3 separate regions of the Homo sapiens genome follow, and regions 1 and 3 are each linked to region 2. Evidence: fine-mapped expression QTL. A gene starts in region 2. Each other region holds a variant in brackets. All regions are shown on one strand. Distances are between the middles of the regions.

Region 1 (10,818 bases), 250 kb after region 2:
CCCCTCCATGTGTCCATGTGTTCTCGTTGTTCATCTCCCACTTATAAGCACTTATAAGTGAGAATATGTGGTATTTGGTTTTCTTTTCCTGTGTTAGTTTGCTGAGGATAATGGCTTCCAGCTCCATCCGTGTCCCTGCAAAAGACATGATCTTGTTTTTTTTTTTACAGCTGCATAGTATTCCATGGTGTATATGTACCACATTTTCTTCATTGATGGGCATTTGGATTGATTCCATGTCTTTGCTATTGTGAATTGTGCTGCAATGAACATATGCATGCATGTATCTTTAAAATAGAATTCCTTATATTCCTTTGGGTAAATACCTAATAATGGGATTTCTGGGTCAAATGGTATTTCTGCTTCTAGATCTTTCAGGAATCACCACACTGTCTTCCACAATGGTTGAACTGATTTACACTCCCAACAGTGTAAAAGCATTTTTTTCCACAACCTCACCAGCGTCTGTTGTTTCTTGACTTTTAATAATCTCCATTCTGACTGGCATGAGATCTACCCTTTTAACACATTTTCCAGTGCACAATATAGTGTTGTTAACTATAAGCACAATGTTGTATAGCAGCTCTCTAGAACTTATTCATCGTGTATAACTGAAATTTTGCCATTCGGTAGATGTAATGACTTTATTCAACTATTGCTCAGGGTCCTTCGGCAAAATTTGGGTTCACGTGCATCTCCTCAATAATAATACAGTTCATATTAGTATCTACATACACGGTATAATTTAAAGACAGAGGGCTACTACTTTCTTCTAACTCTAACTGTGGCTGGAATAGTGATGTTATCCTTGTTGTCATCAAGTACATAGTGGGTAGCCTCAAGACCAACCACATGTTTGTCATAATCCTTGATGATCTCAGATTGTTCTGGATTTATCTAATTATCTTGTTTACTTTTTCTAATTTTAAGCTTATGCTTCAGGCTTTCTGATTTTAACCACTTTGAACCACAAATCCATGTTTTCTTTGGTTCCAAGTGTTTTATATATGTGATATATATATATATATATATAAAACACACACACACATATTCTTTAGGCAACTAAAGAATATTTCTAAGATCATGAAGAAAACCAGAATTTTTATTATTTGGGGTGATTTTGTTACTTGCGGTGAGAAATAGAATTAAATGCATTGTCATAGTTATAAATAAAACAATTTATGGAGAGCAGAAAGTTGTAGTAATTTGTGAGAGCTATTTTTTTTTCTTATAAAAAATTAAGCTGGGTGTGATGGCATACGCCTGTAGTCCCAGCTACTCAGGAAGCTGAGGCAAGAGGATTGCTTCAGGCCAGGAGTTTAAGGCTACAGTGGGTTATGATAATTATGCCTGTGTATAGCCCTTGCACACCAGCCTGGGCAACATGGCAAGACCCCAGCTCTTGAAAAAATAATTAAGTAAAAAAATTACTCAAAACTAACAAATCTCATCCACTGATTCCTACAGTGGTGCTTTGTTTCCCTCCCTCCTTCTCTCCTTCCCACTCTCTTTCTCTCTCACCTTCCTTCCTTTCCTTCCTCTTTCCTTTTGTTTTTCAGCTCACTTTCTTTCTCTCTCTCCTTCCTTCCTTTCTTCCTTTCTTTTTCTTTCTTTCTTTTCTTTCTTTCTTCTTTCTTTTTCTTTCCTTCTCTTTCTTTTCTTTCTTTCTCTCTTTTTCTTTTCTTTTCTTTCTTTCTTTCTCTTTCTTTCTTTCTCTCTTTTCCTCTCTCCTTCCCTCTCTCTTTCTCTCATATATATGAGTGATGAAGTATACATAGCACTGAAGTGTATATATATACACATATCTATATACTTTACATCATGAAGTATATATATATGAGTGATGAAGTATATATATACTTGGTTATATACTTAGAAGATATAATGAATTTTATCAAGTTGTGGTATTAGCTAACATTTTGTTGCCTAGTACATTATTTATTAGGTATTACACATGTCTAATAAATAGTGTTTCTGATTTCTTGAGTCTAGATTGTCTTCTTGATTGAACCCCTCCTCCTCCTCCTCCTCCTCCCCCTCCTCCTCCCCCTCCTCCTCCCCCTCCTCCTCCTCCTTCTTCTTCTTCTTCTTCTTCTTCATTTTTTTGTGCATTGGCTCTTTCAGTCCAAGTCTACAGTTCTATTATTTTATTCCCTTATGATTCATAGTTTTTAGTCACGGATGTTCTAAAAACTTATTTTTCTTTTTTGTCAGCTTGCATTGGGCTCTCCACACTCCCCAACTTTTGTAATAAAGCCTAAGTGCCTTAACTCACTGGTAATTGCAGACTTTTGGAAACAGTGATAGATAAAATCACAAAACAGACATGCTATGCTTGAGTTTAAGTAAAAAAGTTAACTGGGAAAGTACTTTTTATTTACCTTAAAGCAGTATCCAAAATAGAAGAACTGTATTTTTCTTCATAATTCTTCTGTTTTAAACTCATTAGTTTGAAGCATAGTGTTTTGTACTTTAAATCAATTCATTATGTGTTAATACTTTCCCAATGTGTGGTTAAGGACAACTGACTATTCGATTTCTCTTTCCTCATTGCTGGCTCTTTCGCACTAGCTTTTGCTGATACCTCTTCTCTCTGACCTCTACATTTTACAGTGTTCTAGTCTCAGTCCTTTTGCTCTCTTCTCTGCTGTCTTCATTTGCTATTTTGTCTCATCTAGTCTCATGGTTTTAAACATCCTATATATGCTAACAAATCCCAATAATTTATCTTCAGCATAGTCTCTGTCCTAAACTGGATTTTATATTCAACTGCCCATTTATAATCTTCCCTGAATTTCAACAGGCATTTAAACCCAATAATGAGCTTCTGATTTTTTCCTCATAAAACCAGTCCCACTCTTTCCTTTCTTAGTATGCATTGACTCAATCCTCCCAAGTTACAGTCCAAAAAATACCTTGGGATTCACTCTTGATTCCTCTTTTTCACACTTTGCAGTCTATCCACCTGCAAATCTCTTCAGCTCTATATTAAATATTGTGTATGTTATACTCTAGTGTTTTCTCATCTCTTCCACTATTTCCACTTTCATCTCCTACCTGGATTACCACTATAATCTCTAAGCAGGTCTCCTGGCTTATACTCTTGCCTTTCTACTACTGATAATTAACAAAAGTGCTACAGTGAAGCTTTCAAAAATGATATCATATAGTGCCATTTCTCTACTCAAAATTGTCACATGGCTCACTATTTCACTGAAGTCCTACAATGGCCTATAAAATCCTTAGCTGCATCTTCATGTCTTAGTATTTACATCATAACCTAAAAGTGATGAAGTTTTAAAATAAGATGTGTAGCTGGGGGCATATTGCACAAATACCCTCCAGCATTATATGTAGGTAGGCAAGATGAATATATGTATAATTATATAATTAATATAATTTTAAAATATAAAAATCTTATTGGCTAAGTTTTATGTGAACTAATACATATTGGCTAAGTTTTATGTGAAATAATACATATCATTTTTATTACTTAGCTTTTGTTTATTTGAAATTTTATGCTGTTTTGTGTCAGCTCTTTAAAATAGGATTTTTTTCACCTTCAGGCTCTATCAGTAGTTGCATAATTTAACCCGGATAAGCAGCCCCTTTTTCTTCTTCCTTTGTCCAAATTATTCATATAATTAGAATAGTGATTAATATATCTCCTGAATTTCTCAGATTGGATAGAAATTTGAAATCCATCAAAATATTTTCAACTTCATTTTTACTGGCATAATTTTCTCTTGGTAATATAACTTAGATAAAACAATACAGATCTTCAGCAACCTCCTAAAAGCCATCAGCATCTTTCTATAAAAATCTGTAATTCCGGGGTCGTTTTCTGTTTAATGTTGTCTAAGTAAGTGACTAAGTGAATCACTTCCCTTCTCAGAAATAGTAGTGGTTTCTAATTCTCTATTATCTCAAATACAAAGCCTTTAAATTAATGCACTAAAGACCACCATCAGTTGATTTTTCTCTTTGAACTACCCTATTTACCTTTTAACTTTCAACTCAGATTTTCTAGTATGTGTAGGGAAAGCCATCCATCCTACTTTCTGTTCCTTGCACACAAAACAATTCTCCTCAGCATTTAAATTCATCTAAGTGTTCAGCACTGCACCTAGAGTGAAATCCAAGCTTATGTTTTAGTTATAGAGCTCCTCAGGATCCATGAGTGCCTACTCTCCTTCTTAAGTTTTGACTAGCCTACCCATTACAGGCTTTCTCTTCCTCAAAATATGCCACAATCATTTCCCCCTTTAGTTTTGCCTTAGCATTCTCTTTGTCTGGAATATCATTCCCTAATCTTAACAGCACTAGTAGATAATAGTTATTTAGCAGACACTATTTGCCAGACATGCTTATAAATTTTATATATATATATATACGTCTAAATATATGCTTCTAAATTTTATATATAACTTCTAGCAGCCTGGATAGATAATATTGTTTTGATTTCACAAATAAAAAATAATAAACTGAGGCATAGATACCTAAGCATCTTTCCAAAGATATACATTTGGTACAGATTTGGGAGTGGAATTCAAGTAGATGCTTCAAACCTGGGAATTTAACTAATACACCATACTGTGTGATATTCACATGCCTGGCAACACCATTGATATCACATTCTCCTAAATATAGTTTCTGCCACTAGGAACCTTAGAAAAAAATCTTTATTTCTATGAAGTCCATTTTTACCTGTATTGAATTTATGAATCTAAATGTTGCCAAAGACTTTACTATATCTTACATTTTGGTTAATAATAATGTTAACTTTTTCATTTTTAGCTATTGCCAACTTTATTTTGTATTGAATTATTTCTAGTGGTTAAAGCGTGCTTTGGATTCATTTGGTTTTTATAGATTTAGTGAGTACAAGTGTTGTTTTGTTACGAGGATATGTTGCATAGTGGTCAACTCTGAGCTTTTAGCATAGTCATCAGCTGAGTAATGAAAATTGTACCCATTAAGGAATGTCTTATCCCTCACCCTGCTCCCAACCTCCCACCCTTCTGAGTTTCCATTGTCTATCGTTCCACTTTCTATGTCCATATGTACAAATTAGCTCCCACATATGAGACCACGCAGTATTTTCTGAGATATCTCACTTAAAATAATGTCCTTCAGTTTTATTTATGTTGCTGCAAAATACATGACGGCTGAATAGCACTCGTGTCTGTACGTGTGTGTGTTTGTATGTGTGTGTGTGTGTATTCAATAACTTTATCCAATCATTCATTGATGGACACTTACATAGATTCTGTATTCTTGCTGTTATAAGTAGTGCTGTGATAAACAAACAAGTACAGGTATCTTTTTGATATAATGATTTCTTTTTCTTTGGACATATACCCAGTAGTGGGATTGCTGGACTGAATGATATATTTATTTTTAGTTCTTTGAGAAATTTCCATACAGTTTTCCATAGAGATTGCACTAATTTACATTCCCACCAACCATGTACAAGTGTTCTCTTTTCTCCACATCCTCACCAACATCCATTATTTTTTTCTACCATTTAATAAGTGACTGATGTAAGATGGTCTCTCAAATGGGATCTAATTAAACTAAAGAGCTTCTGCAAAGCAAAAGAAACCACCATCAGAGTGAACAGGCAACCTACAGAATGGGAGAAAATTTTTGCAATCTACTCATCTGACAAAGGGCTAATATCCAGAATCTACAATGAGCTCAAACAAATTTACAAGAAAAAATCAAACAACCCCATCAAAAAGTGGGCAAAGTATATGAACAGACACTTCTCAAAAGAAGACATTTATGCAGCCAAAAGACACATGAAAAAATGCTTATCATCACTGGCCATCAGAGAAATGCAAATCAAAACCACAATGAGATACCATCTCACACCAGTTAGAATGCCGATCATTAAAAAGTCAGGAAACAACAGGTGCTGGAGAGGATGTGGAGAAATAGGGACACTTTTACACTGTTGGTGGGACTGTAAACTAGTTCAACCATTGTGGAAGTCAGTGTGGCAATTCCTCAGGGATCTAGAACTAGAAATACCATTTGACCCAGCCATCCTATTACTGGGTATATACCAAAGGATTATAAAACATGCTGCTATAAAGACACATGCACACATATGTTTATTGCGGCACTATTCACAATAGCAAAGACTTGGAACCAACCCAAATGTCCAACAATGATAGACTGGATTAAGAAAATGTGGCACATATACACCATGGAATACTATGCAGCCATAAGAAATGATGATTTCATGTCCTTTGTAGGGACATGGATGAAGCTGGAAACCATCATTCTCAGCAAACTATCGCAAGGACAAAAAACCAAACACCGCATGTTCTCACTCATAGGTGGGAATTGAACAATGAGAACACATGGACACAGGAAGGGGAACATCACACACTGGGGCCTGTTGTGGGGTGAGGGTAGCGGGGAGGGATAGCATTAGGAGATATACCTAAGGTTAAATGACGAGTTAATGGGTGCAGGGCACCAACATGGCACATGTATACATATGTAGCTAACCT[G/A]CACGTTGTGCACATGTACCCTAAAACTTAAAGCATAAAAAAAAGATGGTCTCTCATTGCGGTTTTAATTTGCATTTCTCTGATAATTAGTGATGTTGAACATTTTTTTTCATCTGCTTCTTGATCATTTCTATGTCTTGTTTTGCAAAATGTCTGTGTGTGTTCTTTGCCCACTTATTAAGCAGTTAATTTGATTTGTTATTGTTGAGTGGTTTGAGTTCCATGTAGATTATGGATATTAGTTTTTTGTACGATGTATAGTTTGCAAGTATTTAATCCCATTCTGCAGGTTATTGGTTCACTCTGTTGATTATTTCTTTTACTATGTAGTGCTTTTTAATTTAATTAAATCTCATTTTGTCTATTTTTGTTTCTGTTGAATTTGCTTTTGAGTATTAATCAAGAATTCTTTCCCTAGACCAATGTCCAGAAGAGTTTTTCCTAGGTTTTCTTTTAGTATTTTTATAGTTTCAGGGCTTACATTTAAGTCTTTCATTCATCTTGAGTTAATTTTTGTATATGCTGAGACATAGGGGTCCAGTTTCATTCTCCTGTATATGACAATTCAAATTTCCCAGCACTATTAATTGAATAGTGTGTCTTTCCCCAAGTGTATGTTTTTGATAACTTTGTCAAAGATCAGTTGGCTGTAGGTATGTATGCTTTATTTCTTGATTCTCTATTCTGTTCCCTTGATCTGTGTGTCTACTTTTATACCAGTACCATTCTGTTTTGGTTACTATACTACTTATTATATGACAATAGCCTTGTAGTATAATTTGAAGTCAGGTAATGTGATGCCTTCAGCTTTGTTCTTTTTGCTTAGGATTGCATTGGGAATTTGAGCTCTTTTTGGGATTCATATAAATGTTAGGATTTTTTTTTCTAATTCTGTGAAAGACAACATTGGTATTTTGATAGTTATTGCATTGAACCTATAGATCATTTGGGGCAATATGATAATTTTTAACAATATTGACTCTTCTAATCCATGAGCATGGAATGTTTTTTCATTTCTTTGTGTCATCTGCAAGTTATTTTATTTGTGGGTTTTAGTTTTCCTTGTAGAGATATTTCACCTCCTTGGTTAAATATATTCCTAAGTGTTTTATACTGATTTTTTTGTAACTAGTGTAAATGAAATTGACTTCTTGATTTGCTTCTCAGCTTGATCATTATTGGTGTACAGAAATGCTACCAATTTTTGTATATTGATTTTTGTATTCTGAGACTTTATTGAAGTCATTTGTCAAATCTAGGGGTCTTTTAGAGGAGTCTGTAAGCTTTTGTAGGTATAAGATAATAACATCAGCAGAGATAATTTGACTTTCTCTTTTCCAATTTGGATGATTTGTATTTCTTTCTCTTGCCTGATTTCTCTGGCTAAGACTTCCAGTACTGTGTTGAATAGGAGTGGCGTAAGTGGGCATCTTGTTTTGTTCCAGATCTTAGAGGGGGATGCTTTCAATTTTTTCCTGTTCAGTATGATGTTGGTTTATCTTACATGGTTTTTATTATTTATCATATATGGTTTTTATTATTTTGGGTTTATCATATATGGTTTTTATTATTTTGAGGTATTTTCTTTCTATGCCCAGTGTGCTGAGTGTTTTAATCATGAAGAAATGCTGAATGGTATCAGATGTTTTTCTGCATCTATTGAGATGATCATATGAATTTTGTTTTTAATTCAGTGTATGTGGCAAATCAAATTTGTCGTTTTGTAGCTATTGAATAATCCTTGCATTCCTGGAATAAATCCCACTTGATCATGGTATATTGTTTTTTTGATGTCCTGTTGGATTTGGTTTGACAGTATTTTGTTGAGGGTTTTTGCATCTATATTCATCAAGAATACTGGTTTGTCATTTTGCTGTTTTTGTTGTTGTTCCTGTGTTCTTGTTTAACTTTGGTATCAGAGTGATACTGGCTTCATTGGATGAACTGGGGAGAATTCCCTCCTCCTCAATATTTTTGGGAGACTTTCAGTAGGATAAGTATCAGTTCTTCTTTGTTATGTTTGGTAGAATTCATCTGTAAATCCATCTGATCCTGGGCTTGTGTTGGGAGGTTTGTTTTTTACTGCTTCAATTGTACTGCTCATTATTGATCTGTTCAGGATATATATTTCTTCCAGGTTCAATCTTGAAAGGTTGCATATTTCCAGGAATTTATACATTTCTTCTAGATTTTTTAGTTCGTAAGTGTACAGGCATACAGTTCTTCATAGTAGTCCTTGATATTTTATACTTCTGTGGTATCAGTTGTAATGTCTCCTTTTTCATTTCTGATTATGTTTATTTGAATTTTTTCTTCTCATAGTTATTCTAGTTAGCAGTCTAACAATTTTGTCTATATTTTCAAAAAACAATTTTACATTTTGTTGATTCTTTGTATTGTTTTGGGGTCTCAATTTCATTCATTTATTTTTTTTGATTCTTGCTTTTATCTTCTGCTAGCTTTGGGTTTGGTTTGTTTGTTTGTTTTCTAATTTCTTGAGGTAAGACAATAAGTTGTTAATTTGTGATCTTTCTAATTATTAATGTAGGTAATTAACACTGTAAACTTTCATCTTAGCGCTGCTTTTGCTGTATCCCTGATGTTTTGGTATGATGTGTCCCTGTTTTAATTTATTTTGAAAGATTTTTAAATTCCTCTCTTAATTTCATAATTGGCCCAAAGATCATTCATTTAATTGTTCAATTTTAATGTATTTATGTAGTTTTGACAGTTCCTCTTTGAATTGATTTCTAGTTTTATTCCACTATGATCTGAGAATATAGTTGATATAATATCAATTTTCAAAAGTTTATTGAGACTTGTTTGATGGACTAAATTATGGTCTATTTTGCACGATGTTTCATGCACTGATAAGAAAAATGTATATTCTGCATTTGTTGAGTAGCATGTTCTGTAAATGTCTTTTGGATTAATTTGGTCTAAAGTCCAATTTAAGTCCACAGTTTCTTGGTAGATTTCCTGTCTTGATGTGTCTAGTGCTATCAGTGGGCTGTTGAAGTCCCCTACTATTATTGTATTGCTGTATGTCTCTTTCTTTAGGTCTGGTAATGTTTGTTTTATGAATCTGGGTTATCTGGTGTTGAGTACATATATAGTTAAGATTGTTATATATTCTTGTTGAATCAAACTCTATCATTCATTATCTAATGGCCTTGTTTGTCATTTATTTTTTTACTGTTGTCAGTGTAAAATCTGTCTTATCTGATATAAGTATAGCTATTCCTGCCTGCTTTTGGTTTCTGTGTGTGTGGAATATCCCTTTCCATCTCTTTACCACCACCCTATGTGTCTTTACAAGTAAGGTAAGTTTCTTGTAAGCAGCATGTAGTTGAATTATGGTTTGTTTTTAATCCATTCCACCAATTTGTATCTTTTAAGTGGTGCATTTAATCAATTTATATTCAAGTTGATAAATATATATGTGAATTTATTTCCTGCCATAATGTTCATTGTTATCTAGTTGCTTTGTAGATTCTTTGTTTCTTTTGATTTTTTTTCTGTTTTTTTTTTTTGTGTGTGTCTTTATGGATTTGTGGGGTTTTGTAATGTTTCCTACTTGCTTTCTTCATTTCCTTGCTTTGTGTAATTTTTAAATAAGACCTCTGAGTTTTATATTTTCATGTATTTTTATGATGATGAGTGTCAACCTTTTATTTTCCATGTTAAGAACTCCTTTGAGCATTTCTTGTAAGTTTGGTCTAGTGATGATGAATTATTTCAGCGTTTGCTTGTCTGGGAAATACTTCATTTCTCTTTCATTTATAAAGCTTATTCTGGCAGGATACAAAATTCTGGGTTGACAGTTTTTTTTTTCTTTCAGCACTTTGGAAATAGAATCCCAATCTTTTCTGGAAAAATATAGAATGCTTCATGAATTTGTGTGTCATCTTTGTGTAGGGGCCATGGTAATCTTCTCTGTATCATCACAATTTTAGTATATTTGCTGCTGAAGTGAGTAGTACTTTGAATTTAATAAAGACAAATCCTGGGCAAAGACCCTTGGCCAGGTAACCCTAAAGAAGCTTCAAGGATGATAAGCTCAACATACCAGGTCAATTCTATGAGACTGAAAATGTTGTTTCATCTAACTTCTACAAATTTTTCAAAATAAGAATGGAATATTGTGAGGTTTTTAAGAATTACTTAGTTCATATTATTTTATATTAAATAATGCATTGAACATTAAATATTTTATCCTTTCTAAGTTAGTATCATTTCCTTCACAAAGCTTCAAAAATACATTTAAGTTAAAGAGATTTTTGTTCTTCAAATT
Region 2 (10,394 bases):
GGGGAGGGATAGCATTTGGAGATATACCTAATGCTAAAAGACGAGTTAATGGGTGCAGCACACCAGCATGGCACATGTATACATATGTAACTAACCTGCACATTGTGCACATGTACCCTAAAACTTAAAGTACAATAATAATAAAATAAAAAAAAAAGAAACTGATTGGCTCATGAAACTGCTAAAAAAAGATCAAACATTCATTACATCAACTTGAATAACTGATAAAAATAATAATAATTTTTATTTGAAGCATTGCTTGTTATTTACTTAAATATCTTTTCCAGATTTAAGAAAATTTTGTATCTAGAGTAATTTATACAGCAATTTGGTAAAGAATACTTCTGTGAATAAAGGTGGAGACATTTGCTTTTCCTTTCTACTTGGTTCCCCCCAAATTTTGAAACCACTGGTGAGTATTCTTATGGCACTATAGTTACTTGTATAAGTTCAATAAAAAATCTGCTCTCTCTTTATAACAAGATATGATTGGAAATGTTGGTTATGTTACCAAGGTTTTTACTAAAGCGTCATATTTGAGAATATGCATAGAATACCTCATTTCAAGGGTTCCTAGGCTTACAGTGAATGAATAAAAACTGTCACTTTTTGGCAGGTCCAGAGATTGTAGACCACGAGTTAAATCTAAAGTCTACCTTGGTTTGGCTTCCTATCCCAAAGAGGTTTTAAAATCTGATTCCTATGTTATCAATATGGAAAGAAAAACTTACATTTCTAAAGAAAAGCTATACTACATCTGTTATTAGATTGTAGCTTTGCACATTGCTTTCAAGTTCTTGTTATCTACCTGTAGACTAGACTAGATCCTAAATTCTTCTAGTTTCCTCCAATCCAATTTTCTTCCATAGAATTATTTAAAAGAGAAACTACTCTCTTCTTGAAGCCCTATAAGCTGAAAGTAGATGAATTTTAAGGAACAAGTCTCATGCCTAATGCATGGGTTACACAGAAAGTTTACCCTACTACCTGACACTATAGCCAGAGATATTCAAACTACAAAGAAACACAAGAACTTTATATTTTCATGCTCTAGACAGCTTTTCCAAGATGATGGAAAATGGCTCCATATCATAATGAGACTTTAATTCCTTTTAATGCCTAGTTTTTTCACTTGGAAGACAACGGTCATTGATTTATTTAAACTGGTTGCCTTTAAGCCTAGGTTTGTGGCTCAATACCATTACGCAAACTGAGACTGTCATATTAATACTAATTTACCTGGTATTTCCCCCTTTTAAGCTGTGTATCTGTTACTTGTTAAATTTGTGCAGCAATACAAGTACTAACAGAATAAAGCTGATCCAGCACTTTGAGATGATAGCAAAAGACTATGGAACAGACAAAAATTGAACTTAATAATGGACCACAGGCTTAGCTGGAGAGCCACTCTCTTTAAACCTTTCTATTGTTCAAATCTGGCTAAATGGATTTTGAAACTGACTTTTAGTAGCCATTCACTCCCTCCAATGTGGGACCAGACCTATTGGTATCTTATACCCAAGATAAGTCCATCCTGGCACCATGGGACAATCAAAACCGAACTACAGGATGATTTATCAGCAGTGCTTTTAGACAAAGGTCTTGATTAACATTGGGAAATATAAAAGTTGTTGACATCAAAATGGACTCATTCATATTTTTAAAAAATGACATATTGCGCTGGGATGGTGGCTCATACCTGTAATCCTAGTGACTTGGGAAGCTGAGATAGGAGGATCGCTTGAGGCCAGGAGTTCAAGGCCAGCCTAGGCAACATAGTGATACTCTGTCATTAAAAAAATATTAAAAATTGGCTGGGCATGGTGGTGAATGCCTGGAGTCCCAGCTACTTAGGAGGCTGAGGTTGGAGGATCACTTGAACCCAGGAGTTTGAAGCTACAGTGAGCTATGATTGTGCCACTGCACTTCAGCCTGTGTTGACAGAATGTGACACCATCTCAAAGCAAGCAAACAAACAAACAAACAAGAAAAACACCTGACAAATAGAGCTGGGGAAGGTCATGAAGTGGAGTGGGAGAGTCATAAATGCCTTATAACAAAAACTATCACAAAAGGGTCTGCAAAAACCATAACTTTGCACAAAGGCCATTGCAATCTTACAGAAAAAATACTTCTGCAAGGACATCTGCCCAGCATCTGCCTGTCCAACCTCAGACTGGCACCATAGCCAAGGTTCATTGTCTCAAAACAAGTAATCCTCTTCATGTTTTCTTTTAAAGCCCTTGTCTTTCTTGGCCAGGGACGGTGGCTCACACCTGTAATCCTAGCACTTTGGGAGGCTGAGGGGGGCAGATCACTTGAGGCCAGGAGTTCGAGACCAGCCAGGGCAACATGGCAAAACCCTGTGTCACATAAAAATACAAAAATTAGGCCTGGTGGTATGTGCTTGCAGTCCCAGCTATTTGGGAGGTGGAGGCAGGATAATTGAGAATTGCTTCAACCTGGGAGGCAGAGGTTACAGTAAGCCATGATGGTGCCACTGCACTCCAGCCTGGGCAACAAAGCAAGACTCTCTCTCAAAAACTAAAACCAAAACCAAAACAAACGCCTTTGTCTTTCTTTACTTCTCTCAGTACACACAAATTTTACTATGGCATGCATACTCCCATTACAATGCCCTGTTCCTGAATAAATATTATTTTTAAGAGAACGTCTCTCTCTTTGTTATGTAGATTGACAATGTGATGATGGAAACAAAGTTAGAGTGATGTGTTTTTAAGAGGGAGGAAGGAACCATGGGCCAGTGAATGCAGGTTCCCTCTAGAGGTTGGAAAAGGCAAGGAAACAGTCTTCCCTAGAGTCCGCAGACAGAATGCCACACACTAACACCTTGGTTTTAAGACTTTTGATCTTCAGAACTGTAAGATAAGAAATTTCCATTGTTTTAAGCCATAAGTTTGTGATAATTTGTTACATTAGCAAAAGAAAACGAATACATATGACAACATGTATCTCTATTACTCTCTTAATAAATGTTATTTGTCTCCAATTCTATTATAAATAAAGCTACAATAAAATTTTTCTCTGTGCAGAAGCAAACATTAGATGGCAAAAAGTGTTACAGAGAAAAATGAACCACAGAGAGAGGGTTAGGGATTTAAGCCATTAGAGATATGTGTAATTTATTTTGGTAATTCATTAATAACTTGCTTTTCAGAAATAACAACCACAACAATAATAATATCTGAATTTTGGCGTTTGCCAAATTCCATGCTGTAAGTACACATACCATCACCAGTTTCTAGCTACCAACATAATACTACTGAACACAGAGCTGGGATGAGATCAGATTCTGCGCATGACTGGGTATGTATATGTATGTGTGTACATGAGCTTCTAGGCATATATATAGTTACATGTGTTTCTATGGTAAACAGAAGGTTTGTCTGATACTTGTCAGAGCAAAAACCTGAAAGAGGTGATGAAGCCACCTATGCAGATAAATGGGAAAAAAACATTCTTTTTTTCTTTTTTCATTTGAGACAAAATCTCACTCTGTTGCCCAGGCTGGAGTGTAGTGGTGCCATCTCAGTTCAGTGCAAGCTCTGCCTCCCGGGTTCAAGCAATTCTCTTGCCTCAGCCTCCCAAGTAGCTGGGATTACAGGTGTACGCCACCACACCCAGCTAATTTTTGTATTTTTAGTAGAGACAGGGTTTCACCATGTTGGCCAGGATGGTCTTGAACTCCTCACTGCAAGTGATCCGCCCACCTTGGCCTCCCAAAGTGCTGGATTACCGGCCTAAGCCACCCCGCCTGGCCAAAAAGCATTCTTAACAGAGGGAATAGTTAGTGCAAACACCTGATGGGTGTGTGAGTGTGTTGTGTTGCATGTACTTGAGGTCTGTCTGAAATATATTATCTTAGTCTGTTTGGGGTGATATAACAGAAATAACATAGATTGGGGGCTTATTGTCTAAGTTAATTTTCTCTTGCTATTACAGAATACTTAAAACTGGGTAATCTATAAGAAATGAACTTTATTTTTTTCAATTCTGGAGGCCAGGAAGTTAAAGGTGAAGGGGCTGCATCTGGTGAGGGCCTTCTTGCCAGTGGGGGCTTTCTGTAAATTCCTGAGATGGTGCATGGTATCACATGGTGAGGAGGCTGAGCATGCTAATGTGTTAGCTCAGGACCCTCTTCCTCATCTTATAAAGCCACAGTTCCCGTTCCCCTCCCATGATATCCCATTAATCCATTAACCCGTGGAGGGACTAAATATTCATAAGGACATAACCCTTGAGACCCAATCACCTCCTAAAGGTCTCACCTCTCAATACTGCCACATTGTGGATTAAGTTTCAGCGTGAGTTTTAAAGGGAACATTCAAACTATAGCACTTATAAACAACAGAAATTTGTTTTTCACAATTCTGAAGGATGGAAAGTCGGAGATCATGGTGCCAGCAAAGTCAGGTTCTGGTGAGGGCCCTCTTTCGGGGCCCATAGATGGTGTGCCTTCTAGCTATGTTCCCACCTGGTGGAAAAGGGAATGCAGCTCTCTGGGACCTCTTTTATAAGGACATTAATCCCATTTATGGGGACTCTGCACTCATGACATAATCATCTTCCAAAGCCCTTATCTCTTAATATCAGCACATTATGATTAGATTTCAACATATGAATTTTGGGGGGACAAAAACATCTGGACCATTGAAGATATTAAGGAGACTAACACGGTGGAGAGTGAGTTGCTCCATTGTAGAAGGTAAGTAAGTTAATTATGTATTTGTAAGTGCATGTGCATTTGTAGGGGGGCAGGTAAGGCCTCAGGTCATTATAGGGACTTTGTTTTTTGATTTTAAAGGAGAGAGGAAACAACTAGTGAGTCCTGAAATGACATAATCTGAATTAAATTTAGCTCTTCTGTTGAGAAAGAATAGAAACAGATTGAGACACTCTCAGGAGGATGTTGCAATAAGCCATGTGAATGATCGTGTCCAGGCCAAGTGTAGTAGCAGTGGAAGTGGTGAGATGTGATCAGATACTGCAAGGAGAACTGACAGGATTTGCTGAAAGATTGAATATGGGGTGAGATAAAGAGAGGCGCTAAGGCCGATTCCAAGATTTTGGCTTAAGTAATTGGAAGGTTGGAAGTGCTAGCACATAAGATAGGTAAGAGACTGGGAGAAACATGTTTGGGGAGCAAGGGCAGATCAAGCCCTAATTTTTGACATGGTGTTAGGATGACTTTTAGAATTCTAATCCATCAGAGAAATGGATATACATGCCTGAAGTTTAGGGGAGAATCAGCTGGAGATGTAAATTTGGTATTTAAAACCTTTATACTGGAGAAGATCACATGGGGTATGAATGTAGATAGAGGAGAAATCTCAGGATGTGGTTGTGGGGTACTCTAAAATTTAGAGATCAAAAAGAAAAGGAAGAACCAGAAAAGGAGACTGAGGTGCTATCAAGTACAAAGAAAAACAAAAGAGAATCATATCCAATTAAATATGTTGTTTTATGGAAGGAAAAATCATGAAACTCAACAAATACTTCTGGTTTGATGAATAAACTGAAGCCTGAAAATTGGCCATAGGATTTGCAACTATGATGCTATTGGTCACGTTGGCCAAAACAATTTTGGTGAAGAGATAGCTAGAAAAGTCTGATTGTACTGGATTTAACAGAGAATAAGCGAAGAGTATTTGGAGACACTGAATTTAGCCAACGGTTTCTAGTTTTGTTTTGTTCTGTAGAAGGACAACAGCAAAAGGTAGGATTAAGAGAGGGTTTTCAAAAGCCTGGAGATATTATAAGCTGTGTGGGTGCTGATGGAAAAAAATTGGCAAAGAAGGAAAATTCATGAAGCAGAGGAGCAAGGAGAATTGCTACAGAAATGTCCTTAAGAAAGGGGAAAGGGCTTGATCTCGGGCACAAGTGGAGTAGTTGGCATCTCATCCATGGGAGCAGGTGGAGACTGATGGATAGATGGGGTGGTGAAAGCATACAGAAAGTCTCCATGGATTTTTTTAAATTTTATTTTGTTGTTGAAGCAATGTCATCACTGGAGATTGAGAATGGGGTAGGTAAGAAATAGAAGGCATGACATAGCTATGTAAGAGAATGAGTAAATGAATGAATGGCTTTAGGAAATATCAAAGGATTGTAGCAGTACTTAGAGCCCACATGAGTGGTCATGAATTTGAATTGAGATCAGACATATACCTGTGAGTGTTGTTTTCTTATGCCAATATTAATACACAGATACAAGTGTTGAATAGATTGAGATTTTAACTTAAGCAGAGTTGGAATATTGCCAGGTTAGTGTGAGGATAAAAGAGAATGGCTATAAAGTTGTGGAGAAATACAGGGCAGTATTATGATGATCGATGCATAATGGACTACAGGAGGGAAGATAAGGCATAGAGTGGGGTGGCAGAGCTGGGGGGTGTGGTGAGAGGAACTGAAAAAGATAGGACAGTAGTCCCAGTAGCATCGAAGAATTGTTGGAGGGAGTAAATTCAAAAGATAGAAGATACGGTTGAAGAGAGACAACTAAATTGAAAGTGGCAGATCAAACCGAAGGTAAAGGTATTTAGTAATGACACCGCCTAGGGTATGACCACATGCATGAATAACTCAAGGGTGTAGAAGATGACTGGCAGAGAGGAGGTCTCAGAAATGGGAGGCCAGATAGTAGAAGGATCACTTGTGTGCGTGAGATCACAATAACATAATATTGAAATCTCAATAGAGATAGTATTAGAGATAATTATAATTAAAATCACAGCGGATCTCAAAGATTGGTCTGCAGACTAGCAAATGCCAATGTCCCTGACTTGTTAGAATTGCAAATTTTGAGTATCTCCTAGATCTAGTGAATGAGAAACTGGGAGCTGGGCCCTGCGAACAGTAGTTTAACAAGTCCCCCAGGTGATTTTGATGCACATTAAGGTTTGATAACTATTAATACTTCTATAATAGCACAGATAATAGAGAAATTAACAGCTTGAAGAAATAACAAAAAGTTCAGTGAGTTAGCATGAAACTATACCTGAAAGTTATTGCAAGGTTAAGTGAGAGGAACCTTAAAATTAAAGGGAGCAGCATTTGTAAAGAAAAGCTAGAATCATGAAAAGACCTAAGATAAGATCAAATGAAATTACGTAGAAGTGTAAAATTCTTAACTGTTAGTATCTGAAAATCATGCATTCCTTGCTAGGAAGGCATGGCATTAGTGCTGTCGGAATCCTGATAAAACATCACAAACTTCTGTTCGTTGGTATTAGGGACAGTATAGAGTGAGTGCTTGAAGAACTGCCTTGGCTTACCAATCTCTCTCTCCACAACTTCCAATCATCTCTAGGGAACCTAGCAGAAACACTTCCACAGAGCAAAAGTTATAATACAGAAAGTGATGAAAGGAGGACGCAGGCTCTCAATGACGTCAGGTATTCCCGGGACCCGCCCACCGTGGGCGTTTTCCACCTACAGGCAGGCGTCTCCGGGGGCGGGGCTTGCTCAGGGTTAACGTCACTACTGAGCGCCGGGCGCGTTCCGTTGGCGGCGGATTCGAACGTTCGGACTGAGGTTTTTCTGCCTGAAGAAGCGTCATACGGACCGGATTGTTTTCGCTGGCCCAGTGTCCCCGGAGCTTGTGTGCGATACAGAGAGCACCTCGGAAGCTGAGGCAGCTGGTACTTGACAGAGAGGATGGCGCTGTCGACCATAGTCTCCCAGAGGAAGCAGATAAAGCGGAAGGCTCCCCGTGGCTTTCTAAAGCGAGTCTTCAAGCGAAAGAAGCCTCAACTTCGTCTGGAGAAAAGTGGTGACTTATTGGTGAGATTCCATCCCTTCTCGGGCTGGGAATGGGGCACGGGAGAGGTAAGGGCAATAACCTTAAGCCTTTGTTTTTCCGCCCCGAGCCAATTTATAGCTCTTTCAGGCCCCTGTTTAAGGCAGTTCCAACAATGACAGGGAACGTATGCCCCACCCTGGCATGTCAGTTCATATTCCTGGCGCTCAGTTGTACCGGGCCGCGCCGAAAAGTAAATATCTGGATCTTTTTAAAGGGAGACTGTTAGTCACATGAGCTTAACGTACAGTTACTGCTTACAGTTTTAAATATTGCTGTTTAGGAACACAATCTGGCACCGTGATTAATGTACTTGCAAAGGGTATGAAAGAATCACCCTTTAAAAAATAGATTTTGGAATTCAGTCTGGGTCATTTTTATTTAGCTATTGTAAAAGGCATTGCTCACATGCCTTTTAAGGGCCTCCCTTCTTGCCTCCCTCCCTGTCTCCTCTTTCCTCCCTTGGCTCCCTCCGTCTCTCCTCTATTTACGCATTTAACCAAACATTGCCTTATTTCCTCTAGGTGAGGGTGCTTACTAAAGGACCCTGATGGGAAAGTTTATTTGTAGGAAGAGTCCTCTCAACTGTTAATTCATTTCGCTAGACAAGTAATAGAACACCTAGTCAGTTTTTAAGCTAGACTACTAAAGCCTGCTTATCTGACCCATAATACCTGAAGCATAATGTTCTCCTAATAAGAAGCCCCAATCAAACCACTGTATAATAATGTTTCTGTCTTGAAATAAATTCAGTTTGTGTGTTGAATACCTGGAACACATATTCCTCTGGCACAATGAACACTATTTCTCTAGGTTTAAACCACTGGAGGCATGTTCGGTAGCTTGTCCTTGGCTCTTTGAGTAAAGGAGCCATTATAAATGGACACATAATTTCCAGGAGATCAAGGTACAGAATTGTGGATAATAAGAGCATACTGCATGAATCATCCTAGCTGTTCTTAAACGACATTGGTTTTTCTACCTCCTCTTTACTCTTTTGCTTCCTGGACTTCTCCACTGCCACCCCATCTGTTGCTTCCTTTTCTAAACTACTATAGAATTATCGCCCCTTTCCCCTTATTTGGTCTCTGAAGCCAAAACACAACAAAAACACATTTTCCCCCAGAAAAGTATTACTTCTATCTTCTGCCCTTATTTTTGTTACTTTCTTAAATCTTGTAAGAAGAGGCAATACAGGCTGTCTTGTGCCCCGACCCCAATTAACTATCCCATGCTGGTGATAGAGGTGGCACAAATGAACGGAATTCAAATGAAATTCACTTGCAAAACATTTTTACGTAGTATATTATGGAGCTTTCACTGGGGCTTCTAAATGGAGGGAGAGGAAATGTACCTGATCAAAGATATCCAAGAGACCACTAGCTGGTGCAAATGGCTTAGTGGAAATTCCTCAGGTAGTCAGCATCCTCCCACATCTACCCCTTTCTTCCTCCAAAGAACCCATGGACAGAGGGGCTCCATAGTGCGGTGGGATCCAGGTGGCATGGGAAAGTGGGTGAGTTGAAATTTCAAGCGGTTGCATTGATGGGGTATAGAATGTTCTTTTGGTCAGTAGCTTTTCCCAGGTAGTATGCTCGTCGTGTTTGGCTTTCATTAAACAGTTCGCCTTCACTGTCTTGAATGTGGCATGGATTACCCTGGTTTCTTTATAGCTTTCTGCTCACCTTTGACACTTCATATCTTACCCAGTTCAATGAGTTAGCAAAAAGTTCAATGAATTAGCATTAAACTACACCTGAAAGTTATTGCAAGGTTAAGTGAGAGGAACCTTAAAATTAAAGGGAGCAGCATTTGTAAAGAAAAGCTAGAATCATGAAAAGACCTAAGGTAAGATCAAATGAAATTATGTAGAAGTGTAATTCACTTGCATCCCACATCATCCACAAAGTTTTCTATAGTTAAAGCAGTTTGTTTTGATCTGCTCTTTTTTCTGAACTTGGACAGCAGTAAGAGTATACATCATACAGTTGAGCTATTGGGACTCTTAACACTGTTGTCTAGGAGTTTTCATATGCTGATGTTTCCTAGTGTGGTATGCAGCTTCTTGAGGAGAATGAATATCTCCTTTTCTGTCTCCCATTATCTTTAACACAGAATTAATCTACTTTTATGCTGCCTTTTGTACATGGTATTTCTTCTGCTTGAAGATGTCTTCACTCTACTTGGCAACCTACAATTTTTTCAAAATCCAGTTCAAATGTTACTTCAGTGACGCTTTCCTTAATGTCCTTAGAAAGGATCAATCTTATCTTCTTCTCCATCATCTATTGTCACACATTTGCCTTTTTCTTTATGGGTTTGATTCTGCCACTAGTCTGGGAACTTGAATTTGGAAATTTTTGTATTCCTGGTGTTTTGCATAATAGCTTCAACATTCTGAGTCTACAATTAATTTTGGAAATGCATGACAACTATGTGGATTGATGTCATTTCTAGCATTTTATTTATAATTTCTTTGTGTTATTTTATTATTCTTCACTGGCTTTTTGTTATTTTGTTTGTTTTATGCCTTATTTGATTGTTTAGCCCCAGGGATGGTACTAGGGAGAGAGTT
Region 3 (10,818 bases), 46 kb after region 2:
ACCCTCAGGGTCTGAGTACTACAAATTATCTTCTTTAGTTGGAAGAAAACAGAAACTTAACTTTTCTACCAAAATACTTCCAATTGTTGACCTTGCTAGAATGGGTAATAAGTGGTGTTATTTCTAGTTGGTTTGTGCTTTTTGCAGCTCGAGCATTTGTCAACTGGCTACCAATGATTTCATACATTGATACAATTATTTATATATTCATTTAGTGCTTTTCTGCTGAAGAGCACAAGATAATCGATCACTTGTAGAGTTTTCTATCATGGATGCAATTCCCAGGTAATTGTTATAGTACCATAAAACCATGGTACGACAACTCATTTTAGTAGTTTTGCACTCTGCTATAACCACACATATAAGGGCCATTAAAGTTAAAATGTCCCTTGAGTTTTTTTTTTTTTTAACTAATATTAACTTCAATCAATGTAGGCAGAAATAAAAAATATACTGGTCGTGAGCACTCTATCCCCAAATAATGTAAAGCTGTGATGGTAAGATACTTTATCATACTGCTTTAGAACTCATTTTTGCTGTGATATATTGCCCAGAGCACTTTGGGTTCATAAAACAGGGAATGGTAATTAATCTTATGTGGAAGGTATAACCTAAAGTCCAGAACAGGAGGATGAAAGCTGTGTGCATACAATGAGATTCATAGAATGCAGAATGTCAGACATGTTTATGTGACAATTTGAAAATATTTCTAATTCCAATAGCTGCACTCTTTAGAGAAAAAGGAAATACACCTCATATTCTTTAAGAAAAAAATCACATAGAAATAGGTCTAAATAAAAAAGCAAGAAAGATTAGCCACTGGCATTGTAAATGGAAATATTGTATATAGAAATTTAAAGAATTTAACCTTCTATTGCATATAGGAAAAATATTACATTGTAAAATATACATTGTATTGTTTCAGTCAACATATTTTTGGGTAGATAATTGGCACTTCAGTGTCTGGCCTTTGTGTACTAGTTACAAAATGTGTGAACTCTTATTCTGATTGAAATTTTTTAACTTAATGCTGAAAAATTAGTAAATTATATTAACTAATAAATTTACTCAATAAGCATAGGTAGAACACCCACCTTGGACCAAGCCCTTTCTGTGAGGAATGTGTCTTATAGACATAGTTTCTGCCTTTAAGGAGCTCCAAGTGCTTTAAACTCACAGTGGAGGTTTTCGTAATCCCAGGAAATAATTGTTTCTTTTATTAAGAAATTTTAAGATTAAATTTTAAATTATGAGGTGAAAGCTTTTTTCTTTAATATATATAAGGCATTCCTTCATGGAAAATGGCTAAATTTATTGGAAGAACACTAGAGGAAATCTTACTAATACTTGAGTGTGAAGCCTATGTTATACATGCTTTGGGAATAAAGGAAAGATATTGGCCTCCAGGGCTGTCAGCCTGGCCCTTTAGGTGAATTTAATGCTCTTAATTTTTATTATGCTGCTAACCCTCTGCTTCCCCTGAAACCTACACTGGTTTATTCCAACCAATGTGGTCTGAATCCCATCCAACATTTTACTAATATTTATCAGTGCTAAAGTTAGTATTCTTGATAAGTCAAAGTTGTTGCAAATCACTTCCAGTTGTACAAATACACTATTTACGTATAACTGGTAAAAACTCCATGCTGTCATTAAATGAGTTGACATGTTCATATAATTACCTGGGCCTGGAGTCCGAGTATGTGTGATTATTCTGGAGAAAGAAAAATCAAACGAATTAAAGTATAATTCCATGAAAAGTATAATCTTTGACAGCTATAAAAGTAGGCATTTTCCAAAAATGTGTTTCATTTTATTGCAACAACTTTTATTTTTCTCTGTTTCTTTTTATAAAGTTCCCATAAATTGTCTGAAGCTTGGATGAATTTAAATATTTCAATCAAGGTTTGGCAGCTGATAAATTGAATCAAGCTTCATTACCAGTTCCAAATTACCCATCCAGATTAAGTTCATGGGTTGTGCCACCAACCCCTAAAGTTCATCACTAAAGTGACTTGCCAGGGGAATTGCTTGTGGCACAACTCCAATTTGGAACAGAGACTGGAAGTTGATTTAAGCTCGGGAGCAGAAGCAGAGTGGGAACCAAAGTCCAAGCTGAAGCTGGAATAAGGCTGCCATAGTACTGAAACATATCCTTTTAGATTAACTGACTTGCTTTCAAATTGTGTATTGAATTGAAAGTAATGGGAACCAAAGTCCAAGCTGAAGCTGGAATAAGGCTGTCATAGTACTGAAACATATCCTCTCAGATTAACTGGCTTGCTTTCAAATTGTGTATTGAATTGAAAGTAATGAGAACTCAGATCTGGTGTTGACTTAACCCTGAAATTCACCTATGACCTTAGTAATGAGCAATGGCTCTGCTGTTGTGTGTAATGTTGTTCATGGCAGAGGGTTTCCCTGTGCTTTAGGTTGAGCTGTCCCAGTTGTGGAAAGGCTGATGAGAGGTTGCTAAATTCTACTCTAGCATGTGAATCTTGTCTCTGGTATCCCCTTGAAGCCATGGATAGGGGGCACCCACTGTCTTAACTCTAGCTTATCACATAATGCATAGTAGACAAAATAAAAATATTTTATTTGCTTATTTATTTAATACATATTTTTAAAGATCCTATTGGGCATCAAGTATTCACAGTAAATGGCAGTGACCTCCACAGACATGATACCTGCATCATGAAAGTTGCAGTTTAAAGTTTGTCAAATTTATTTTTAAAACTTTGTTTATTTTTTCCTGAAATAATAACAATGACATAGGAACCTTTAAGAGTCACTGTTAGTAATGACAAAGATTCTCTGTTGATCGAACTTTAGCCAGGATCTGAACCTTCTCCTAGGCGTGTGTTTGTACTTTCTTGTTAAATCCAGTTTTAGCAAAGAACCCTGCTAAGACAGTTTGGCAAGAACCTCCCACCCTTGATATCTGATCACTCTCAACGTTTGATCAAGTTCTTTATCCTCCACCATTCCCCAGGTGATGTCTAACTACTCTGGCCTGTCTTCAGCAAGAATCCCCCTTACCCCAATTCTCCTCCACGGCCAAATCCTGTTGCTGTAGTCCCTCAGTGGTCCTTAATGAATCTTCCTTAACATGTTTTAACAAGTATTGTTGAATGTTTTTGTTTTTGTCTAATGATGATATTTATTCTTTTTGTATATGTTGTCTTAGGACCTTTACTGGCATCTGAGTCACTTCTGTTGTTGGCAGCAGTATCACCCTTATTACTAGGCAAGAGAACCTTAGCCTTGGGCCTCACATTTCTTTAGAGATCTAGTTGATGACTAGATATCCCAAATGCATGCATATACACTTTTATTAAACTATATGTGAGCACCTACCTCTGTTACTCATGATCCAGTGTCCAGCTCTGTTAATGCAACCAGTAACCTTAAATATCCTGAACATCCACTGTCAAGACTAACATTGTTCAAGCCCCAGGGAAATGCTTTTCTACTTTTTTTGCCCTGTGTTCTTGAAACAAAAGCCAACATTATCTGAACTCTCACCTGGAGCCTGTCATCTCAGCACCCTCTAGCACCCTGCCGCCAGCCAACCAACATGCACCTTGCCGCACTGCTGCTGCTGCTGACACGTGAATAAATATGGATCCCACTGTCACTGCCCTATGAAGGGCTTTGGCTGGCACCGCCCATCATAGTGTTGTGACCAGTGGTCCAAGAGCATCTTGGTCCTGCTAGTGCAGCAAGTTCCTAACCTCGAGGAGTCAGAGCACAAAACCAGGGCTCAGTACCAGTCCCCTAAAGTTAGAGCACACAGTTCAGAAGTCCTGAGCTGAACCTTGGCTCCCTAAAATCTTCCAGAAATGAAGCCAGTCGACTGAACCCACCTCAGAGCGCAATTAAACCCTGAAGGTGGCTCACACCTGTAATCCCAGCATTTTGGGAGGACAAGGCAGGTGGATCACCTGAGGTCAGGAGTTTGAGACCAGCCTGACCAACATGGTGAAACCCTGTCTCTACTAAAAATACAAAAACAAAACAACAATAACAAAAAACCCAGGTGTGGTGGCACATGCCTGTAATCCCAGCTGCAGGAGAATCACTTGAACCTGCGAGGAGGAGGTTGCAGTGAGCCGAGATCGCACCATTGCACTCCAGCCTGGGTGACGAGCGAAAATCCATCTCAAAAAAAATATATATATATATACCTTGAAGGTCATTAAATGGGATTAAAAAATATCTAAAGGACAGCAGCTGCAAAGAGTGAAGGCATATAAGCCCACAAAAATGAGAAAGAACCAGCACAAGAACTCTGACAACTCAAAAAGCCAGAGTTCCTTCTTTCCTCCAAACAATTGCACTAGCTCTCCAGCAAAAGTTCTTAACTGGGCTGAGATGGCTGAAATGACAGAAATAGAATTCAGAATATAGATAGGAACAAAGATCATTGAAACTTAGGAGAACGTTGAAACCCAATCTAAGGGAGCTAAGAATCACAATAAAATGATAGCTGACAGAAAAAAATAGCCAGTATGGAAAAGAATGTAACTGACCTGATGGAGTTGAGAAACACACCACAAGAATTATATAATGCAATCACAAGTATTAACAGCAGAATAGACCAAGCTGAGGAAAGAATCTCAGAGCTTGAAGACTAATTTCTGAAATAAGATAGTTAACAAGAATAAAAAAAATTAAAATAATGAATGAAACCTCCAAGAAGTATGGGATCATGTAAAGAGACCAAGTCAACAACTCCTTTGTGCCTCTGAAAGAGATGAAGAGAATGGAAGCAACTTGGAAAATACATTTCAGGTTATCATCCATGAGAATATCCCCAACCAAGCTAGAGAGGCCAACATTCAAATCCAGGAAATGCAGAGAATTCCTGCAAAACACTTCACAAGAAGATTATCCCCAAGACACATAATCTTCAGAATCTATAAGGTTGAAATGAAGGAAGCTGCTAAAGAGAAAGAATGGTTATCTACAAAGGGAAGTCAGTCAAACCAACAGCAGACCTCTCAACAGAAATTCCACAAGTCAGAAGAGATTGGGGGCCTATATTCAACATTGATAAAATGAAGAGAAATTCCAACCAAGAATTTTATATACAGTCAAACTAAGCTTCATAAGTGAATGAGAAATAAGATTCTTTTCAGACAAGCAAATTCTGAGGGAATTTGTTCCCACCAGAAATGCCTTAGAAGAGCTCCTGAAGAAGTACTAAATATGAAAAGAAAAGATCACTACCAGCCACTACAAAAACACACTTCAGTACATAGACCAGTGACACTATGAAGAACCACACAAACAAATCAGCATAATATCCAGCTATTCACTTGATGACAGGATCAAATCCACACATACCAATACTAACCTTGAGTATAAACAGGCTAAATGCCCCCACTTGAAAGGCACAGAGTAGAAAGCTGGATAAAGAAACAAAACCCAATGGGATGCTGTCTTTAAGAGACCCATCTCACATGCAGTGACATCCATAGGCTCAAAATAAAGGGGTGGAGAAAAATCTACCAAGGAAATGGAAAAAAGAAAAAAAAATCAGGGGTTGCAATCCTAATTTCAGACAAAACATAC[C/T]GTAAACCAACAAAATTCAGAAAGGACAAGGGCATTACATAATGATGAAGGGATCAATTCCACAAGAAGACCTAACTATCCTAAATATATATGCACCCAACACAGGAGCACCTGTATTCATAAAGCAAGTTCTTATAGACCTGCAGAGAGACTTAGACTCCTAGACAGTAATACTGGGAGGCTTTAACAACCCACTGACAGTATGAGACAGGTCATCAAGGTAGAAAATTTACAAAGATATTCAGGACCTGAACCCAACAAATGGACCTGATAGACATCTACAGAGCAACAGAATATAGATTCTTCTCTGGTGCACATGAAACATACTCTGAAATTGATCACACAATCAGACATAAAACAATCCTCAGCAAATGCAGAAGAACTGAGGTCATAGCAATCACTCTCTTGGACCACAGTGCAATAAAAATAGAATTCAAGACGAAGAAAATCACTCAAAACCATGTAATTACATCAAAATTGAACAACCTGCTCCTGAGTGACTTTCAAGTTAATAATGAAATTAAGGCAGAAATCAAGAAGTTCGTTGAAACTAATGAGAGCAAAGATACAGCATACCAGAATTTCTGGGACACAGCCAAGGCAGTGTTAAGAGGGAAATTTGTAGCACTTTTAAAAAATTTATATGGAACCAAAAAAGAGTCTAATAGCGAAGGCCATCATAAGCAAAGATAGCAAAGCAGGAGGCACCATGATCCCCAATCAAACTATACTATGGAGCTACAGTAAACAAAGCATCATGGTACTATTACAAAAACAGACATATAGACCAGTGGAACAGAATAGAGAGCCCAGAAATAAGACTGCACACCTACAACCATCTGATCTTCAACAAAGCTGACAAAAACAAGCAATGGGAAAAGCATTCCCTGTTCAATAAATGTGCTGGGATAACTGGTTAGCCATATGCAGAAAGTTGAAACTGGACCCCTTTGTTACACTATACAAAAATCAACTCAAGATGGATAAATTCTTAAATGTAAAACTCAAAACTATAAAAACCCTGGAAGACAATCTAGGCAATACCATTCTGGACACACGAACTGGCAAAGATTTAATGATGAAGACAGCAAAGCAATCACAACAACAGCAAACACAAATGGAATCTAATTAAATGAAAGATCTTCTGCACAGCCAAAGAAACTATCAATAGAGTAAACAGACAACCTACAGAATGAAAAAATCTTTGCAAACTATGCATCTGACAAAGATCTAATATCCAGCATCTATAAGGAACTTAAATTTACAAGAAAAAACAACCCCATTAAAAAAGTGGAGAGAGGACATCAACAGACACTTTTCAAATGCGTACACACATTTGGTGGAGAAGCATATGAAAAAAAGCTCAATATGAATGATTATTAGAGAAAAGTAAATCAAAACCACCATAAGATACTGTCTCATACCAGTCAGAATGGCTACTATTAAAAAGTTAAAAAATAACAGGTGCTGGCAAGGTTGCAAAGAGGGAATACTTACACACTTCTGATGGGAATGTAAATTAGTTTAACCATTGTGGAAAGCAGTGTGGCAGTTCCTCAAAGAGCTAAAAACAGAACTACCATTCAACCCAGCGATCCCATTACTGGGTATATACCCAAAGAAATATAAATTGTTCTATCATGAAGGCATGTGCACACATATGTTAATCAGAGTGCTATTCACAATAGCAAAGACATGAAATTAACCTAAATGCCCATTAATAAAAGACTGGATAAAGAAAATGTGGTGCATATACCATGGAATATTATGCAGTCATAAAAAAGAACAAACTCATGTCCTTTGAGAGATACTATTACTTTGGTTGATGCAACAAGGAATAAATGAGGAAATATATTACTTAAACTTTATGAAAGAAGACTAAATATTGCTTATTCATTGATATAGTTAGGCTTTGTGTCCCCACCCAAATCTCATCTTTAATTGTAATTGCCATAATCCCCACATGTCAAGGGAGAGATCAAGTGGAGATAATTGAATCATGGGAGCCATTTTGCCCATGCTGTTCTGATAGTGAGTGAGTTCTTATGAGATCTGACAGTTTGATAAGGGGCTCTTCCCCATTTGCTTGGTACTTCTTCCTGCTGCCTATTCAAGAAGGTGCCTTGCTTCCCCTTCGCTTTCTGCCATTATTGTAAGACTGAGGTTTCCCCAGCCTTGCTGAACTATGAGTCAGCTAAACCTTTTGTCTTTATAAATTACTGAGTCTTGAGCAGTTCTTTATAGCAATATGAAAACAGATGAATACATTCATATTGAAAAGAAGGAGGAGAAGAGATTAGTTCAATAGGTAAGCTAAACTTTCAGATAACTAGAATTCAGTTGGTAATGCCTAAAATTCATAAACCAAGAGAGTATAAATGTATTCTTTTGAAATATAGAATATTATAACAGGTAAAAGGAATTATCCTTCGGAGTGAGTTTCAAGATTAGTAGGAGTTATTTCAAACCATTCTGTACAATTTTATCTTTTTAGATATGCAGACGATCTAATTAATTTTCACTTGGCCTTCTGTCATTTGACAGTAAGAGCTCAAATCTAACCCATATGGTCAGGTAGGAAACAAAGGCTACTTTCTTTCCCACTTGTAACATCTACCTCAGTCAGACTATTTACTGTCTTTCAGTTATAACACAAACTCCCCATGTGTATAAATGGAGGGAGAATATCTCTGTGAGGGAAATGTTGTCAATCTGCTGCCATGTTCCATCCTCGCACCAAACTAGCAGTGACTGATCTATAACTCATATAGTAAAGTGCACTATTAAACATGCCCAGTACTATTTAACTATATCAGTCTCCTTGCTTGGAATTTAATGGTCATCAGTTGCATTAGTCAATTTTTATTGCTCTTTGAATTATGTACACTGCGCCTTCTGCCATTTTAATGGGTTTGTGTTTCACAGATTGGCACAGATTAGGGTTTATATCTTTAAAGAGATGAAATAGTTGTGCAGTGTACACTAGAGAAACAGTCTCCAAACTGACCAGCTGCTTTGCTTTCAAATAATTTATTTTTTTATTCAACACCCTTTTTTATTCCCCCTCCACTGCCCTACAAGTTAGCTTCTTCCAGGTAGGCACTAGGGGCACAAAGATGAATAAGACATGAACTTGATACTAGAAGAACACATAGTCTAATTATAGTAAATATATTTTATCTTGATAAGTACAATAATTGGAATAAAGTAGCATGGGAGTGCCAAGGTAGGAAGAAATATAATTAAAAATTACATTCTGTGCCCTATTAAAGCAGACTTTTTGGAGTTTAGTCCATGTAATACCATTAAACATCACTAATTTAAAAATAATTTACTACAAATAAATTAGTTATTTTTAAATGACTGAGTGATTTATTTAGAGAAACTAAGTTAGAGAGTTAACTGACTAGTGAAACAATAAATCTAGAGTATAAATCCTTAATTTTGATTATAAATTAACTAAGAGATTTTCTAGTTTTTCTTTTAATAAATAAATTCCAAGCCTTTCTACTTTTCACTGAGAACTTGTCCTAACTCATCTTTACCTTTATTGTTATTGTTATTATAATCTTTTTTTGGATATGAAATCTACATATCTGCAGGCCAGATCACATACTAGCTACTCTCAAAAATAAATCACAATGAAAAGTGTAAACTCTGAAGTAAGAAAGAGTGATTAGAAGTATTCATTAAGTATAAATGTGGTGTTTCATATACGGCGTAGCTTGATTTTGGAAATTATATCCCAATTTCACGGAGGAAAGTTGCCATTTTTTAAACTGTGGTTTTCTAAAAAGCCATAGTAATATTTTTGCCATCCTCTCTATTATATGCCTTTCAAGTGCAATTAGTATATTTATCATTTCCTGAATTGGCTTCTGAAGACAGAAAAGAAACACTTCCTACCTTAAAATTTTAAGCCTAACTGCAATATTGTATGGGCAGATGCAAAGAAGACATGAATCAGTCGATATAATTAATTTGTTTCAGCAAGGGGTTAAGTGTCTTCCTAAATCAGTAACTAAGAGGTTTCTACCGATTATTGGGTTTACATAAACCGCTTTGAGGTTACCAATTAGTAACAGGTACACTTGTCAAAATGCCTAAATTAGTTTCCAAATCAGAGGATAGACTTGATCAAGAATGATAGTTTGTATATAGGCCAGAAAAACTGCCCATGTCCACTTTCCAAAGTGCCAACTGCATGTGGTTTTCCCTTACTACTCTAATGGAATCCTGAATTCTAGACCTTATGAAACATACTAGCCAGAGCCCGACTGACTTCTAGTAAAAAGAATTGAGTGTAAATAATATTTATGGCCTTGCAGACTATTTGGCTGAATCCACCTTAAAAGATAGCTTCATTCTGCTTATACAACGTTTCACCATATACAGTAGCACAAAAGGACACTCAGACCAAGCCAAAAAGAAAGACAAAAGTGTAATTCACCAAGGAAAGAAATGTATAAAGGAAGGTGACTAAACTGAGACTTCATACAACTGTTTATTTGTCATAAAACCATCTATGAGCTAAGATATAAGCATAAACATTAAGTGAATGACAGTTGTTTTATTGTGTTTTCAACATTTTTAGTTGTATCTTAAAAAATACCAGATGCTATTCATATGATGCCAAACATATGGCTTTTGGCCGTGCTCTTGTAATCTGTAGTAGATTGCTATAATGTACAGGGCAGGGGGAAAAAGGCGATTTACAGATAGCACCGGCCTGAGTCCCTCACAGCTGGATCTAATTTTACTGAACTGATGGTCTCTTCCCTCCAGCACCTTCTATTTTATCAAATGCCACATATTGTTTTTGAAGTGGTTCTTGTTGTCATAGTGAATACCACAGATGGATAACACACAGGACATTTGGTTGTCAGTTTTCTGACTAAGGTCAGGACCTACTGTTCATGTTTGGGTGGAGTATTTATAGGACTGCCCAAGGAAACTAATGAGTTTCAGCTGTCTGAGAGAATGCATGGGACGTTGCTTACTTGGTTGATGTACTTGGAGGCCATTATAGTCATTTGGGCTTTAGGTGTGTCTTTCTATCAGTTGGTAAACTGACATTTCACTTGGAAAGAAGATGAAAAGGGTAAGAAAGAGAATGAATACATGCTAATAATTATTTTATTGCATTGTGATTGCCTATTTACTTTTCTGCCACTCCTACTAGATTTTAAGCTTCTTGAGGGTAGAACACTTCTTGTTTAATATCAAATAGTGTGCATGTAG

Which allele goes with the higher level. Positions count from the first base shown, and alleles are read on the strand shown. Sizes are in standard deviations (SD) of each study's normalised expression. Not every link is listed here.
For the expression in B cells of the gene that starts at base 7,519 in region 2, A is the high allele of the variant in region 1 and G is the other (moderate effect, 0.48 SD a copy in Fairfax 2012).

Evidence for each region. PIP is the estimated chance that this variant, and not a neighbour inherited with it, causes the effect.
Region 1: its variant is the best candidate, but not a certain one, in a credible set for the expression of CENPW in B cells (Fairfax 2012, PIP 0.78).
Region 3: its variant is the best candidate, but not a certain one, in a credible set for the expression of CENPW in subcutaneous fat (GTEx, PIP 0.55).

The regions. Positions count from the first base shown.
Region 1 is chr6:126,579,890-126,590,707 of GRCh38, forward strand. It overlaps the pseudogene RNU6-200P. Among named protein-coding and RNA genes, the nearest start is that of MIR588, 100 kb to the left of the region's middle. The variant G/A (reference allele first, on the strand shown) is at 6,525.
Region 2 is chr6:126,332,597-126,342,990 of GRCh38, forward strand. CENPW (centromere protein W) reads left to right here and starts at 7,519. Exons shown (of 3, transcript NM_001012507.4): 1 at 7,519-7,803. The coding sequence starts at 7,678. RefSeq lists enhancers at 7,409-7,678, 7,689-7,738.
Region 3 is chr6:126,378,072-126,388,889 of GRCh38, forward strand. It overlaps a transcript of CENPW not described here. Among named protein-coding and RNA genes, the nearest start is that of CENPW, 43 kb to the left of the region's middle. The variant C/T (reference allele first, on the strand shown) is at 5,578.